Linked DNA regions of Homo sapiens. The protein of the gene in region 2 interacts with the protein of the main gene of each other region in a pairwise test. Each region holds a gene or a part of one and is shown on either strand. Other genes may lie near its edges.

Region 1 (6,848 bases), on a different chromosome or scaffold from region 2:
AGCCCAGGAGTTCAAGACCAGCCTGGGCAACATGGCAAAATCCTGTCTCTACAAAAGATACAAAAATTAGCTGAGCATGGTGGTGCACACCTGTAGTCCCAGCTACTCGGGGCTGAGGCGGGAGGACTGCTTGAGCCTGGGAGGTAGAGGCTGCAGTGAGCCATGATAGCACCATTGCACTGCAGCCTGGGTGACCGAGTGAGACCCTCTCTCAAAAAAAATTTTAAAAAGGCTGGGTGCGGTGGCTCACACCTGTAATCCCAGCACTTTGGGAGGCTGAGGCGGGTGGATCATAAGGTCAGGAGTTCGAGACCAGACTGACCAACATGGTGAAACCCCGTCTCTACTAAAAATACAAAAATTAGCCGGGTGTGGTAGCGTGCGCCTGTAATCCCAGCTACTGAGGAGGCTGAGGCTGGAGAATCGCTTGCACCCAGGAGGCAGAGGTTGCAGTGAGCCAAGATTGCACCACTGCACTCCAGCCTGGGTGACAGAGCGAGACTCTGTCTCAAAAAAATCATTAACAATAGCTAACATTTACAAAACTTTTACTATGTCCTAGGCGTTGAGCTTGTGAGGCAGCTGTTAATCTTTTTTTTTTTTTTTTTTTTGAGTTGGAGTCTTGCTGTCACCCAGGCTGGAGTGCAGTGGCACGATCTTGGCTCACTGCAAGCTCCGTCTCCCGGGTTCACGCCATTCTCCTGCCTCAGCCTCCCGAGTAGCTGGGACTACAAGCGCCCACCACTACACCTGGCTAATTTTTTTGTATTTTTAGTAGAGACAGAGTTTCACCATGTTAGCCAGGATGGGCTCGATCTCCTGACCTCGTAATCTGCCCACCTCGGCCTCCCAAAGTGCTGGGATTACAGGCGTGAGCCACTGCGCCAGGCCAGAGGCAGCTGTTACTCTTATCCTAATTTTACAGACCAAGACCTGAAGGCCCAGAGGGGATAGATAAGTTGCCAAGGTCACAGGGCTGGTTGTTGAACCTGGATGGTCCGTCCTCAAAGCCAGTCCTCTTAACCCTTATATGATTATCCTAGGATGTGTAGAGACACATAAACCAGTGTGGATATCAACTGATAATCTGAAAAAAGAAGACCTCATAAGGGCATGAGAGGGAATCAAGCCTTTTCATATGTTAGAACCTATTCCAAAGAACCAATATTTAGATTCATATGGTATTTGCTCAAACTGAGGTCTAAGGAAGGAAATGGAGAATTCAGAAATATATTAATCAAAATAGAAAGTCTAGCGTAAAAGTAGATTTTACTAAACAAAGGAATTTTTTTTTTTTTTGAGTTGGAGTCTCGCTTTGTCGCCCAGGCTGGAGTGCAGTGGCGCGATCTCAGCTCACTGCAAGCTCGGCCTCCCAGATTCACGCCATTCTCCTGCCTCAGCCTCCGGAGTAGCTGGGACTACAGGCGCCCGCCACCATGCCTGGCTAATTTTTTTGTATTTTTAGTAGAGACGGGGTTTCACTGTGTTAGCCAGGATGGTCTCAATCTCCTGACCTCGTGATCTACCCGTCTCGGCCTCCCAAAGTGCTGGGATTATAGGCGTGAGCCATGGCGCCCGGCCTTTTTTTTTTTTTTTGAGATGGAGTCTTGCTCTGTCACCCAGGTGGAGTGCACTGGCACAATCACGGCTCACTGCAGCCTAAAACTCCTGGCCTGAAGTGATCCTCCTGCCTCAACCTCCCAAAATGCTAGGACTACAGGTGTAAGTCACCACGTCTGGTCAATAATTATTTAATAAATGGTAACTGCAGAATTAATAACAACCGATGACAGTGGTAGTGAGTTATGTCCATATTTTACTCCAAATAAATAAGCCAAAATAAAATCGGGATAGTCATCAGAGAATGAAATATGAAATGAAATTGTACAAAACTAGCAGAAAAAAGACTATCAGATGGGCAGCAGAAAGCTCACTTTGTCAGCACTGAAGCAATTAAAACATTAGAATGACACACTGAACATTAGAATAAAACAAGAAAGAACAACAGGCTAGAAAATATTTGCATCAATGACGACAAAGAAGTAATATCTGTAACATAAAAAAATGCTTGTTCAAAGTTAGAAGAGGTTCAAGTCCCCAGAAGATGGATATGAATAGATTATTCACAGGAGAGGGAATGCATATAGTAAATGCATGGAAAAACATTCATTTTTGAATGTTGTGTCACCTAAGAAATGCTAAGTAACCTTGAACTAGCAATAGACTATTAAAGTAGGGGGGAAATGGCACTCAATGTTTATAAGTGTGTTAAACTCCTTACACTTGTTCCTTGGAGGCGGTAGAATAATTGGGGCAGCTCTTGGGAAAAATATGACGCTGTAAGCCAAGACCACTTGGCCATTCATAGCCTTCTACCTGGGAGCCTTTCCACTCCCAGGTATTTGTCCCAAGTGCAGAATTCAAGGATACGTTAGCAAACAACCGTAAAGAACCAAAAACATTAGGGGGCTGAGTGAATAGTTAAGGACACCTGCACACCTTAAAAATGAATCGTGAACAAATAAAAATGGTAGTGAAAGTAGTAACAAAAAAAGTGTGGTTGCAACTATACACAGTATATATATGTTTCATGTCGTGAAAAGTTGCATTTCTTTGTAACAATATGGATTACTGTATTCTTTTTAGATTTTTCTTTCTCCGGTTGTCATATTGTTTTTTCAGTGGTGCTAAAAAAAATCTGGATTCAAATCCAGCCAGCAGCGTGACTTTGAGCAAGTTTGTGAAGTGGGATATTTCTCAGAGCGGTTGAGGGAGGTGGCTTGAGCTCGCACCTGGCACACGGTGAGAACCCCAGACTTTCTTCTTGCTGTGGGGGCGCCTCTGGGCCCTGTCCGATAACGCCTTTCACGGCCTGGGAGTCTGATCGGGAGCTCCCGGGTCTCGGTGGCGCGGGAACTCCCTTCTGGAGGGAACTTTCCGGAGCAGGTGGGCGGGTGTATGTCCCACGGGCACCTGCGCTCAGGAGGAGGGGGCGAGCTCGGGCAACGTAACCGCCCACGGTCACCTCGGGCTGCGGGGCCGACTTGAAGCCGCCTTCGAGGTTCTGATCCTTCCCGGGGCTCTGGGCTCGTTCGTCCCAATTCGCAGCTGTCCTGTGCCCCCTCGCTGCAGGAAGACTCAAGATTTACAGGGCGCCTCCTGCGGAAGCCTAGAGACATCGGGGGCGCCGAAGGGCCCGCGCCGGACTTCGCAGACAGGGGGCACTTGGGTGCCCTTTCAGGTCTCAGAGGGAGCGCCCGATCCCCGACGAGGGGCAGGCAAACGGGCGCAGTGCCCGCGGCGGCGGCACGCGCGCATCTGGGATCCGGCCGCTTCTCCGCTCATGCCATCTTGTCCGAGCCAGTCACGTGCGGGCGACAGCGGCGCGCTTCGCCGGGCCGGTACTCCAGGTCCGACCCGCGAACCCCTCTGGGATCCCCGCCGCTCTGTCTACAACCCGAGGTGAGGCGCAGGCTGGATCGGGGCTGGGCCAGGGCGGGCACTGGGTTCCCGGGGACGCGTCTCCTCTTCCGGGCCGTTCCGCTCGGGGCCACAGCGCCGTCGGGGGCCCGAGGCGCCGCCGCGTGTCCTGCGCCACGGCCTCGGGGCCGTCCGCGCCGAGTTGCTGGCTGGGGGCGTGGGTGGCCCGCGGCGCCGGACCCCCGGCACACCAGCCCGCGGAGTCCTTGCCTCCCGCGCGGCCCCAGCCAGGAGGGATGGCGCTGGGGCGGGAGCGGGGCAGCCGGGCCCGGGAGCTCCACGGGCGCGGCGCGAGGGGCGCAGGCTGCCTGGAGGACCGCGGAGCTGGGGGTGGGGGGGCGCGGGCGCATGCGCCCTGCGTCCGTGCCATATTGGAATGAGTCGGAGCGCGGAGCGCCGCCGCCGCCTCCGCCGGAGCGCGGGTGGAGGGGGGCGGGGAGAGCTGCCGGCCGCCCCGCTCCGCCGAACCCAGCAGGAAGGAGGGCGCGAGCGGGCGAGCGCGGGCAGCACGGGAGGAAAAAGCTTCCGCGCGGGGGAGCGAAAAGACGGAAAGAAAGAAAGAAAACGAGCGCGAGAGGGGGAAAAGCGAGCGATCGAGCGAGCGCGCGCGCGAAAACTCCGGGCAGGTAAAAAAGCGGGGCCACCGGCTGGGCCTTCCCGCGCGGCGGCCTGGAGGGGCGGCGGCGGCGCCGGGGCGGGGGACCGTACGGCGTCCCCTTCGAAGCGGCCGCGCAACTTTGCCAACGGGAAACCGCCGGGCGCCGGCGGGCGCGCGGGCTGAGGCGCCAACGGGCGGCGGCGGCGGCACGTTGGGGGCGGGGGCGGGGCGGGGGGAGCGCGGCGCCCGCGCGCGGCCCCGCGGTCCCGCGCGCCGGCCGGCCGGCTGCAGGGGCGCGCCTGGGCGCCTCGCCGCGGCGGAGAGCGGCGGCGGCCGTCAGCCCCTGGCAGGCAGCGCGGCGCGCGTCAGCCCGCGGGAGGCGTGAAAGGAAAGTGGCCGGGCGGCGGCAGTGGCGGGCGCCCAAGTTCCCCGGCGCGCCGGGCCCGCCGCGCGCCCCTCCCCGCGCGCGCCCCGCGCTCCGCCCGCCGAGCCCCCGCGGACCCGCCCCCCGGGCTCGCTCCGGGCGGGGCGCGAACCCGCAGCTGGGGCCGGGCGCGCGGCCGGTCGGAACTTCGGAGGGCCCGGGCGGTCGCTGCGCGGTGGCGGAGCGTCTAGTGGCCGCCGCAACCGGTGGCTCCGGGCCGCCGTTGTGAAGTGAGCGGGCCTCTCCCGCGCCGCGGCCCGCCGGGCACCGCCGCTGGACCCCGCGCCGACCCGGCAGCGCCCCGACCTGCCGCTCGGGAGGTCCGCGACCGTTTCGATTTCTGTTCCTAAAGTCCGATTTTGGACGCTGAAAAGGAGGCTGTGGAGGGGCGAGCGGCGTCCTGGGAAGCAAGGCCTGCTCTGTGCGGAGCAGAAACGCCTTGTGCGAACAGAAATAAATTCCCGCGGAAAGGATGTACGTTATGCTAAGTTTTTCACAAGATGTCAGCTGTTCCCGTAGGGTCTAAAACTAAGCCGGCAGGCACAGGTCACCCCCAGAGCTTGTGCTCAAGGAGTGGTGGACGCTTGGGTCAGGTGGGGGTGTTCCCAGCGGGTCGCCCGAAGCAGCACTGGTTGATGGTCCCAAGTGGTGTTTTTGAGTCCTGTTAGCAGTGATCTGTGTTTGAGAACCAAGTAACCATCAAAGAGATTCGAAAGGAAGTAAGATGGATTTTGTCAATCCCTGCGTATGTCTTCTCTTGAACCACATTTTCTAAGATGTCATTCTTAATTTTATTGCATCTGGGTAAAATGCCTGAACGTGTAATCATTAATTTGTCAACTGGCGAGAGGATGAAGGAAGATGTGTCTTCATGTGTACACTTTGAGGCCTGTTGACTAGCGTTTTGAGGCATTTGTTGAATTAGGCCGTAGGTAGATTCGGAGTTAAGATTTGTTTGCGATGTCAGAAAAGTTACGGCCTGGTAGAAACGGCCAGAGATCAGGAAACAGTTCTGTTATTACCGTTGTCATTGACTAACTGCCTTATCTTGGGCACATTTCTTACCCATTGTAGCTTTGATTTTCCTTATTTGCAACATTAAGATAAACAGATGATGTTTGGGGGTGCTTTCAGTTCGAAAATTCGGTGGCTTTCTTAACTGAAAGATTCTTAGAAATCACAGTGTATATTTTGAGAGGTACTACATAAAAGTGCTCGCAATGTGTGTCTTTATTAAAATTCATTTGGAAAAAACATCTTGGTAGCTAGATCCAGAATGGTTTTATATGATTATTTGAATAGATTTTTAACAATGTATTTTTATGGAGGTATGTATAACCTACCGAAAGATCTTAAGGGTACAATTCAATGACTTTTTATATATGTATATGCCCTGATAACCACACTCAGATCAAGATATGGAACATTTTCAGGCCTTGTATCCTTTCCATTCAGTAAACACATTCCCCCTCCCCAAGGCAACCACAATTCTGACTTCTGTCACCACAGATGAGTTTTGCCTCAAAACAGGACCCTTTTGAGGGTTAAAGGGGCAATACTAACAAACTGAGGATAGCTTGTATGTAAACTTGGAGTTATGGCCGTGTTGGCCATGACCCTTTGCTTTTATAATGATTCTTAGGGTTTTTGTAATCCAGAATAACTTAAAATTCTGTCCTGAGGAACTTCTTAGAAGGTCACTTTTCAGTGGGGGCAATACTTTGCAGGTTACGATTGGTAGTTCTTGGGAGTCCTTATGTTCACAGACAATGGTATTAATCTATGACTTCCCATTTTTAGAATATAGGTACTATATATTTGTAGACAACAGATTTGAAGAATGAATCATGAATTTTCCTAACAAGTTAGAGTTTAAGGTGTCAGTAGATGAATCAGTTTCTTAATGCCTAGAATTTGCTGAGAAAATTGAATGAAAATTGGTTTCTTAAAGTTAAGTGAATTAAGAATGTGTGCGTAAAGCTTTAACAACCTTTTCAATGACAGCAGTTGACTTATATATACAGGATAGTCAGCTGGTTTATCAAATCATTTAAAGTGCAACAATGAAAGCAAAAACAAAAGGTTAACTAAAAATTATGTCAGGTGTGATTAAAAAAATCAGCATGACTAAGATACCTTTTTTTTTTTATTAACCCTCTTTCTAGGAAGGTGGACTTTTAAATATTCTCCACTGAAGCAAATGCTGCAACAATTTGCATTTCCTTCACCAATGTCGTCTTGTGCCTTTTCTTGTTCCTACTGTAAAGGAGATGGGTTAGATGTTGTAAGTGAATTCTTATTTTGTTAGTTCCTAACAAAGGCTTGTGTTTTTTACTGCAAAGATAT
Region 2 (7,547 bases):
CCAGTATCTCTGGGCTCAATGAACCCTCCTCTGCCTTCTCCATATTACAGAGGACATTGCAAAGTCCTCTGTAATAGCCTTTTTTGCATTGTCATGGTCCCTTGTAGACTGAGATCCTTAAAGACACGGATTGTACTTTACATTTATTTGCATTCCCAGTTCCTGGCACATAATAGGAGTTCCATAGATATGTGTGGAATAGAATTGAGGCCTAATCCTTTTCCACATGTTAGCCCTTCAATTATCTGAAGACCCTTCTAAGGCCTTGCCCTACCCCACTCTACTCCCATTAGTAGTTATTTCTTCTGCAGGCTAAATGTTCCCAACTCCTTTCAGCTGCTCCTTATAAAGTCTGATTTCCAGATTCCTTATCTGGTCATTTGCTTCTGGGTCATAATTTGTCAACATCACTCTTTTAAAATATAATGCCTAGGACAAACTCAATAGCCCAAAGTCTGGCCATAGCAGAACAAAGTGAGGGGATTCCAAACTGTGATTCCAATCTATGACGTTTTCTTGGCCATTACTGTGTGCCAGGAGGTCTTTCTACTTTATTTTCTTTCAGTCTTCAATAATCTGGTGAGGTAGGTGTCATTTCTTCCATTTTATAGATGAGGATATAAGCCATCTGGTAAGGCACTTTGAGAATAAGTTAAAGTCACAATTCCAGAGCATAAAGCAAACTTGTGATCAACTGATACCTTTAGATCATTCGTACATCAACTGCTGTAAAGTTATTATTTTTTCCAGTTACCGGCTAGTGACAGGCTTAAGGGAAACTGAGGACAAAGAATCAGTACCTTTAGAAGGGTGTGAAACCAAAGCATACAGAAAAGGCAGGTTGGATTAATGACCACCTTCCTAACAATAACAGCCTTTATCTAGGAGCTCAGAGACTGGAATGTCTTAACCACACAGCTTCCTGGAACTATTTTTACTTTGTATTTTACAAGAGGAGAAAGAGCAGAAGCGTCTTAGATAAACAACAAGGTTTGGGCTCAGCACATGTCTGAATCTGAACAGCCAGTGGGGCCCTGTGGTCACAAGGCAGATAATAAGGAGGTTGCCTCTTTGGTCTGTGGCTTGGGTCTGAAAGGGTCCTACTGTGCACATTCATTCTATAAATATAGACTGATCACCAAATGTGTTCCAGGTATGGTGCGAGGTGCTGTGGATGTAATGAAGAACAAAGACAGAGTTCCAATCTGTGGAGCTTACAGTCAGGTGAAAGATAAGCATAAATGAAAATGATATGCACAGATCCTAGTAAATGCAATGATGAATGAAGGTGCCAGGCTACAAGGAGAGCGAAAGGAGGGGCATTTAATTTATCCTGGGGTGAGGATGGAAGAGAAGGTATCAGAGGAAGTTCCTGGGGAAGGTAGTCTTAATTGATGTGTAGGACTTAATGTGGTGAAGGCTCTTATGTATTTCAATGCATCCCCCCCACACCCCGCAACACACATACTTTCTTTAAGCATCAGAAACCATCTTTCCCATTTCCTTTACCAACTCTTCTACTGGGTCATCAACAACATGAAAAAAAACAAAAACAAAAAACAAAACAAAAACTACTGTTTTTGTCAGTTCTGTCAGTGCCAGAATAATCACTCCTTTTTGCTGTAATGTAATGTAGAAAAGAGCAGACCTGGGGTTTCCTAGCATACCTCCTTTAAAAAAAAATTACATCCTGATTAACTTGCCTATTTCTTCCCTCTCCATTGCCTCTGTATTTCTTGGCTTCCCCACACCTGTAACCCAAAGGTCACAGGGTCTGTCATAGCCCAATTCCACTCTCCAGTTGCCTCTTGGTTTTTAACCCCCCTTATTAAAATCCAAACATTAAGCAACTAATAACACCCATGTGTAATTAGTTGTTTAATTGAACAGCACAGAACTGTTAATACATTATGCTGTGCCCTGGAATATTAAGTGGAATAAAAGCAAAGTACTATATTCAAGGAAACTACAGTCTGACTTAAAATACTACAATGGGAAACATTTCACACAGAGATTTTTACCAAGTGACAGTGGAGAGGAGGGAGAAATGAGTTCTTCCTGAGAAGTGTCAGAGAAGTTCTGAGCTGGATCTAAAAAAGAAGCAGGAGGCTGGGTGTGGTGGCTCACGCCTGTAATCCCAGCACTTTGGGAGGCCAAGGAGGGCGGATCACAAGGTCAGGAGATTGAGACCATCCTGGCTAACATGGTGAAACGCTGTCTCTACTAAAAATACAAAAAATTAGCTGGGCGTGGTGGCAGGCGCCTGTAGTCCCACCTACTCAGGAGGCTGAGGCAGGAGAATGGCGTGAACCCGGAAGATGGAGCTTGCAGTGAGCCGAGATCATGCCACTGCACTCCAAACTGGATGACAGAGCGAGACTCCATCTCAAAAAAAAAAAAAAGCAGGAATCCAAAGGACAATATGCATAATATTTATTTATTTTTAGCAGATGTGGGAATATCTCCCTCATGCCAAGCCTTATCTAAGGCTACAGGTGTGAATAAGGTTCCTGATCTCAAGACGCTTTCAGCCTAGAAAAGAGGTTTAGAAATATACTCCAATAATGGCAACATATATGGTGCCATGGACAGAGTTACAGAACAAACTGCTAGGGGAATTCATAGAGAAAATGTTCAAGAGAACATTTCTCACTGGACGTAGTAGGCAGAATTCTAAGGTAGCTTCCTAGATTAACCTTCATGTACACCTTCTGCATAGTCCCTGGGACAGTGGCTATGATGAATTTTACTCCTGTGATTAGGGTATGTGATGTGGCACAGGTGATCTTAAAGTAGGAAGATTATCTAGGTGGGTCTGACCTAATTACAAGTCTTTTAAAAGCTCATAGTGTTCTCTGACTGGTTGAAGAAGGGAAATCAGAGATATTTAAAGAATGAGAGGGAGTGACATGAGAAAGGTTCTCTGTTGATGAGATAAAAGGGATCACGTGGCAAGGACCTGAGAGTGGTCCCCAACAGAGAGCTGGCAAAACAGTGTAGCTGTGGGATCCTAGTCCTACAGGGACATGAATTCTGCCAACAGCCCGAAGGAGCCTGGGGCAGACCTTTCCCTCGTGGAGGTGCTAGACATCTTGATTTCAGCCTATGACACCACGAGCAGAAAACCCAGCCACACCATGCCAGTTTTCCGACCTACACAACTGTGAGTAAATCAATGGGTGTTGCTTTAAGCTGCAAAATTTGTGCCAATTTGTTATGCAGGAATAGAAAACTAATATGAGCACTTACAACACTGTGCTCTCATTAGCTATTGACATAATAGTTTCCCCAAATATGGGCTCCTTAGATTTAGGCTCTAATTATCCTTGTAACCTCAGGGCTCTTCATGAGACAGGTACTCCCCAAAACGCCATGGAATGAAAGTTTAAATTAGACAACAGGGATGCAGATCAGAACCTGGATAGATTCTGACCATTTCCATTTCTCAAGAATGGGCAGACGGATACTGACACCAATACCAGGATACAAGGAGGCGGCCCCCCTTCAGTCCAAAGCTCTAAGACCTATTCTAGAGGCAAGGCAAGTAATCCAGGCTCAGCTGCCCCATCTGCTGCTCCAGCCTTGCTTAAGTGGACTTCCCTCCAAGGAACATTGTTCACAGAAGGATCATTAACAAGACATTCCTGTGTGACCTGAGGATTGCCATGTTCTAAATGATGCCCACACCCACTCCACATCCAGCTCAGCAGAGGTCTCGGGATTTATATTGCACTGTATTTTCAAGCAGCCAAAACAGAAGTCAAGACGTCAGTTTCCTAAGCTGCTAAAATGATGTGGTGGTTAAACCAATTGTGTGCCAGGCGCAGTGGCTCACGCCTGTAGTCCCAGCGCTTTGGGAGGCTGACGCAGGAGGATCACTTGAGCCCAGTAATTTGAGGTTACAGTGAGCTATGATGGCGCCACTGCACTCCGACCTTGGGGACAAAGTGAGGCTCCATCTCTAACAAAACAAAAATAGAATTGTGTAGCCAACATGGCTGGTGGGCCTGGAAGAATGAGCCTGTGCATTGTACCTGGCCCATCACGGGCTCAGTGCGTACTCGTTGAAGGGATCACCACAGGGAGGACCGAGGACGCTGACACTCCCTAGGGCATCCAAGCACCAACTCATCTCTCACCTACCCTCCGGGTGCAGTGCTATCGTGTTGGAGAAGAGGCCCCTGGGTGGCTGTGCGAAGTAACTCGCCCAAGGTCACCACACGGCCAGCCACTAGCCCGGCGGGAGTCGCCCGAGGCGAGGCCCACGTCAGCCGGTCTTGGGGGCCCGACCGGTGGCTCCTCCACCAGCCCCACGCGGCCTCAGAGCGGGCTACTGGCGTCCTCGAGATTCGAACCCGAGTCCTCGGCCTCGTCCCCGCCCTCGCGCCCTCTCAGGCCTCAGTTTTCCCATCTACAGGACGCAGACCGGAGAGCTGGTCCGGGCGCCAACTGGGCCCCCGGACCCGGGTCGGCAGGCCGGCGGGGTACGGCCGGGCCGGGTTCCCGCGCGCCCTCCCTCCTCCAGCGCGCCGCCCCGCCCCCCGCGCGAGCCCAACGGCCGAGGCGCGCGCCACCTCGCAGCGGGAGGCGCGGGGGAGGGGCCGGGGGAGCCCCCGCCCCGCCCCCCGCCTCAGCCGCCACCGCCAGCTCGGTGGAGCCCCCCGCCGCCCGCCCGCCGCTCTCCCGAGCCGCCCGCCCGCCCCCTTCCCGCGTCTCCGCTCCCTCCCTGCGCAGCGGAAACATGGCGGCGGGAAGAGAGTGAGCCGCCCCGCGCCCCCGCCGCGCCCTCAGGTAAGCGCCTCGCGGCCGCCTCCGCCCGCCTAAGAGCTCGTGCCCTGAGGGGCCGCCTGGGGCCAGAAGGCGGTGGCGGGACCTGCGCAGCCGCTGCGCCTGCTCCCCCGGGCCGGGGTCAGCCTGTCCGTCTGTCTGGCCGGCCTGCCAGTCTGTGGTCCGCGCGGGGCTGGGCCCTTTCTCGGCCGTGTCAGCCCGGCCCCGAGCCCGGAGGCCGGCTCTGCATCTGCGGTCGGGCGGGCGGGGCCCACGGTCCGGTCGCGGCCCTGACGCCGCCAGGACTGCCCGGGGGCCCCGGCACGGGAAACCCAAGGCCGGGGGCCCTTTGGAGGGTCGGCGTGGGGGCGGTCCGTATAGGTCGCCGTGTCTGGCCGGCGGGGCCGGGTGGGCCGGGGCAGGCTGGCTGGGGGCCGAGGGCCGGGCGGCGGCGCGACCCCGTCTGCGCGGGTCAGTCGGTCCCCTCCGGCGCCAGAGGTGGGAATGCCTGTGATTCTGGCTGGCCGGGTCCCGGTTCGGGGAAGGCAGAGACAGAGGTCGACGGGGCGGCGTGGCCCCCACCGAGAGCTGGGGCGCCTAGGGCCCGGAGCTGTCAGCAGCGTCCTGGGGGCTGGGCCCCGGCTGGCCGACTCACGTGTGCCGCCTGCCCCAGTGCCCCGCCGGAAACGGGCAGGGAGAGCGGCCCCGCACCGAAGTGAGCCACAGCGGCCCTGGGGGCCAGACACGTGGGCACAGTTGTGTGCCAGCCCGAGAGCATCGAAAGTGGTATCCAGCCGATGGGTGAACCCCGGAATATCTCCTGACTGGAAGAGAATTTAAAAGTCATCTAGGGGCGCTTTCTCCCATCCCATGCCAAAGTGACTTTGAAAATCCCCAAATCCCCCCGATAATTTGACGAGCCCGTTTGGAACCTCTTCCAGTGATCCGAAGCGAATCTCTTTAAAGGAAACCCATTCTGTTCCTGGACACATTTGGTTATAAGTTGAAAGAAACAGCTGGCTCCCATCCTTCCTAGTTCTTTTCCCTTATGGGAAGCTGTTAAGATATCTGAAGATAGTAATCATGTCCCCTGAGTCTTCACTTCCACTTTCTTCAGTTGTCTCTCATCTGCTGTGGTTCTCTAAACTGTCCTCTGGATGAGCTTTAGTTTCCCCCATCCCCTTAAAGGAGAGTTTCTTAAAAGTGATCCTGGAGACAAAACGTAGTAAGTTTCTCTAAGAAACAGCCCCAAGGATTGACCTGCTTAAATCAAAAGTACTCTAGATTCCCTTCCTCATTTCTGTACTGTATTTTGAACTTAAAAAAAAAAAAAAAAGAAAACATTTAGTAGTGTTTGTTCAAACAAACTAAAAGACATCTTATTTTGTGGAAATTTGGGGGTTTCCTTCCTTTTAAAAAATGTCTATAAACACTTTATCAAATGTTGCTAACTAATGTACATCAAAATGTTTTGTTGAAGTGTAATGTGCCAGGCAAATAGAATAGCTCTTTTTTTTTTTTTAAACTCTGAAAAGGATTGAGACCTAGTTTAGTGCCAAACTGCAATTTTAATATTTGGTTGCAGAGGGAAATGCTTTATTACATTGAACTCTTTGCTCTAGTTCTAACTGCCAGCAGGAGGCCCAAAATTACTATGAAAGAGAACACTTTTTGTTGCTTACTTACCAACCTCCTAAACTCTTGCCTAAGCAACTCTGCAGGTTAGTAATGTTTTAAGCCCAGTAGAGATGAGATGGCCTTGTAGATAAAAGGCCAGGCTCTTACATCTGGGATCCTGTTTAAGTACTAAGCAAAGTTTCAGTGTTTTTACAACTTAGACAAGCACATACCAGCAGTCAGAATTGGTTCTTTATTTTTGTTCTTAAGCCTTCATTTTTTAAATTGGTCAATAGTTTTGAACTTTGTAGCACATATGTCAAGTTTTGATTTTAGGTATGTTTGTGCAAATGTTGTTCCCTTTTATGTAAGTTGGGTAAACATTTGCATAGCACCATTCTCAATGGAACTATACAGATCCAGAGGAAAGGCCCTGATTCCTTCCTTGCAAAGGACTTGGAGTGAAAGGTAGAGGATACTTAACTATGAGAAAGAATTGATGTGAATATCCCACTGAAAATTTAAACTTAGGGCTGGATGCAGGGGCTCATGCCTATAATCCCAGCACTTTGGGAAGCTGAGGCAGGCAACTCTTTGAGGCCAGGAGTTCTGGACCAGCCTGGGCTACGTAGCAAGACCCTGTCTCTACAAAAAATAAAAATAAAAATATAGCTGGGCATGATGGTGTATGTCTGTAGTCTCAGCTACTCAGGAGGCTGAGGCAGGAGGACCGTTTGAGTCAAGGAGTTTGAGGCTTCAGTGAGCCATGATCACGCCATAGCAAGTGACAGAATGAGACCCCATCTTTTAAAAAAGAAAAGAAAATTGGTATGTTCTAACCTTCACTGTACACTTATGTACCTACTATGGGTCAAGCACTATGCTATGTACTGTGCTCAGCTGGGTTTACAAAGATTTCCAATCTTGTGGAGCTGGTAAATTAGATGCTTAAATAGATTATCTCAGAATAAAAGATGAGAACTACGCATAGCTGAGATATACAAGGTGAGAGTAAAGGTTGCCCAAAGGTGAGGGCACTTAGACTAGCCTAGGAGTTAAAGGAAGGCTTTGGGAAGAGATGATATCTGACCCAAATCTTAAATGGTAGGTAGGAGTAAGTGAGGCAAACATGAGCAGAAAGCGTCCTTCAAACAGAGAAAACA

Evidence for each region. The genes of interacting proteins can lie anywhere in the genome.
Region 1: the proteins of SCMH1 (region 2) and SFMBT1 interact in binary tests that used the Homo sapiens proteins (3 or more experiments, as listed by UniProt).

Annotation. Positions count from the first base shown.
Region 1 is NC_000003.12:53,043,074-53,049,921, reverse strand, and holds the start of SFMBT1 (scm-like with four MBT domains protein 1), read left to right. Parts: upstream 1-3,848; 5' UTR 3,849-4,106; intron 4,107-6,848. UniProt on the Homo sapiens protein: Histone-binding protein, which is part of various corepressor complexes. Mediates the recruitment of corepressor complexes to target genes, followed by chromatin compaction and repression of transcription.
Region 2 is NC_000001.11:41,239,303-41,246,849, reverse strand, and holds the start of SCMH1 (polycomb protein SCMH1), read left to right. Parts: upstream 1-4,543; 5' UTR 4,544-4,791; intron 4,792-7,547. UniProt on the Homo sapiens protein: Associates with Polycomb group (PcG) multiprotein complexes; the complex class is required to maintain the transcriptionally repressive state of some genes.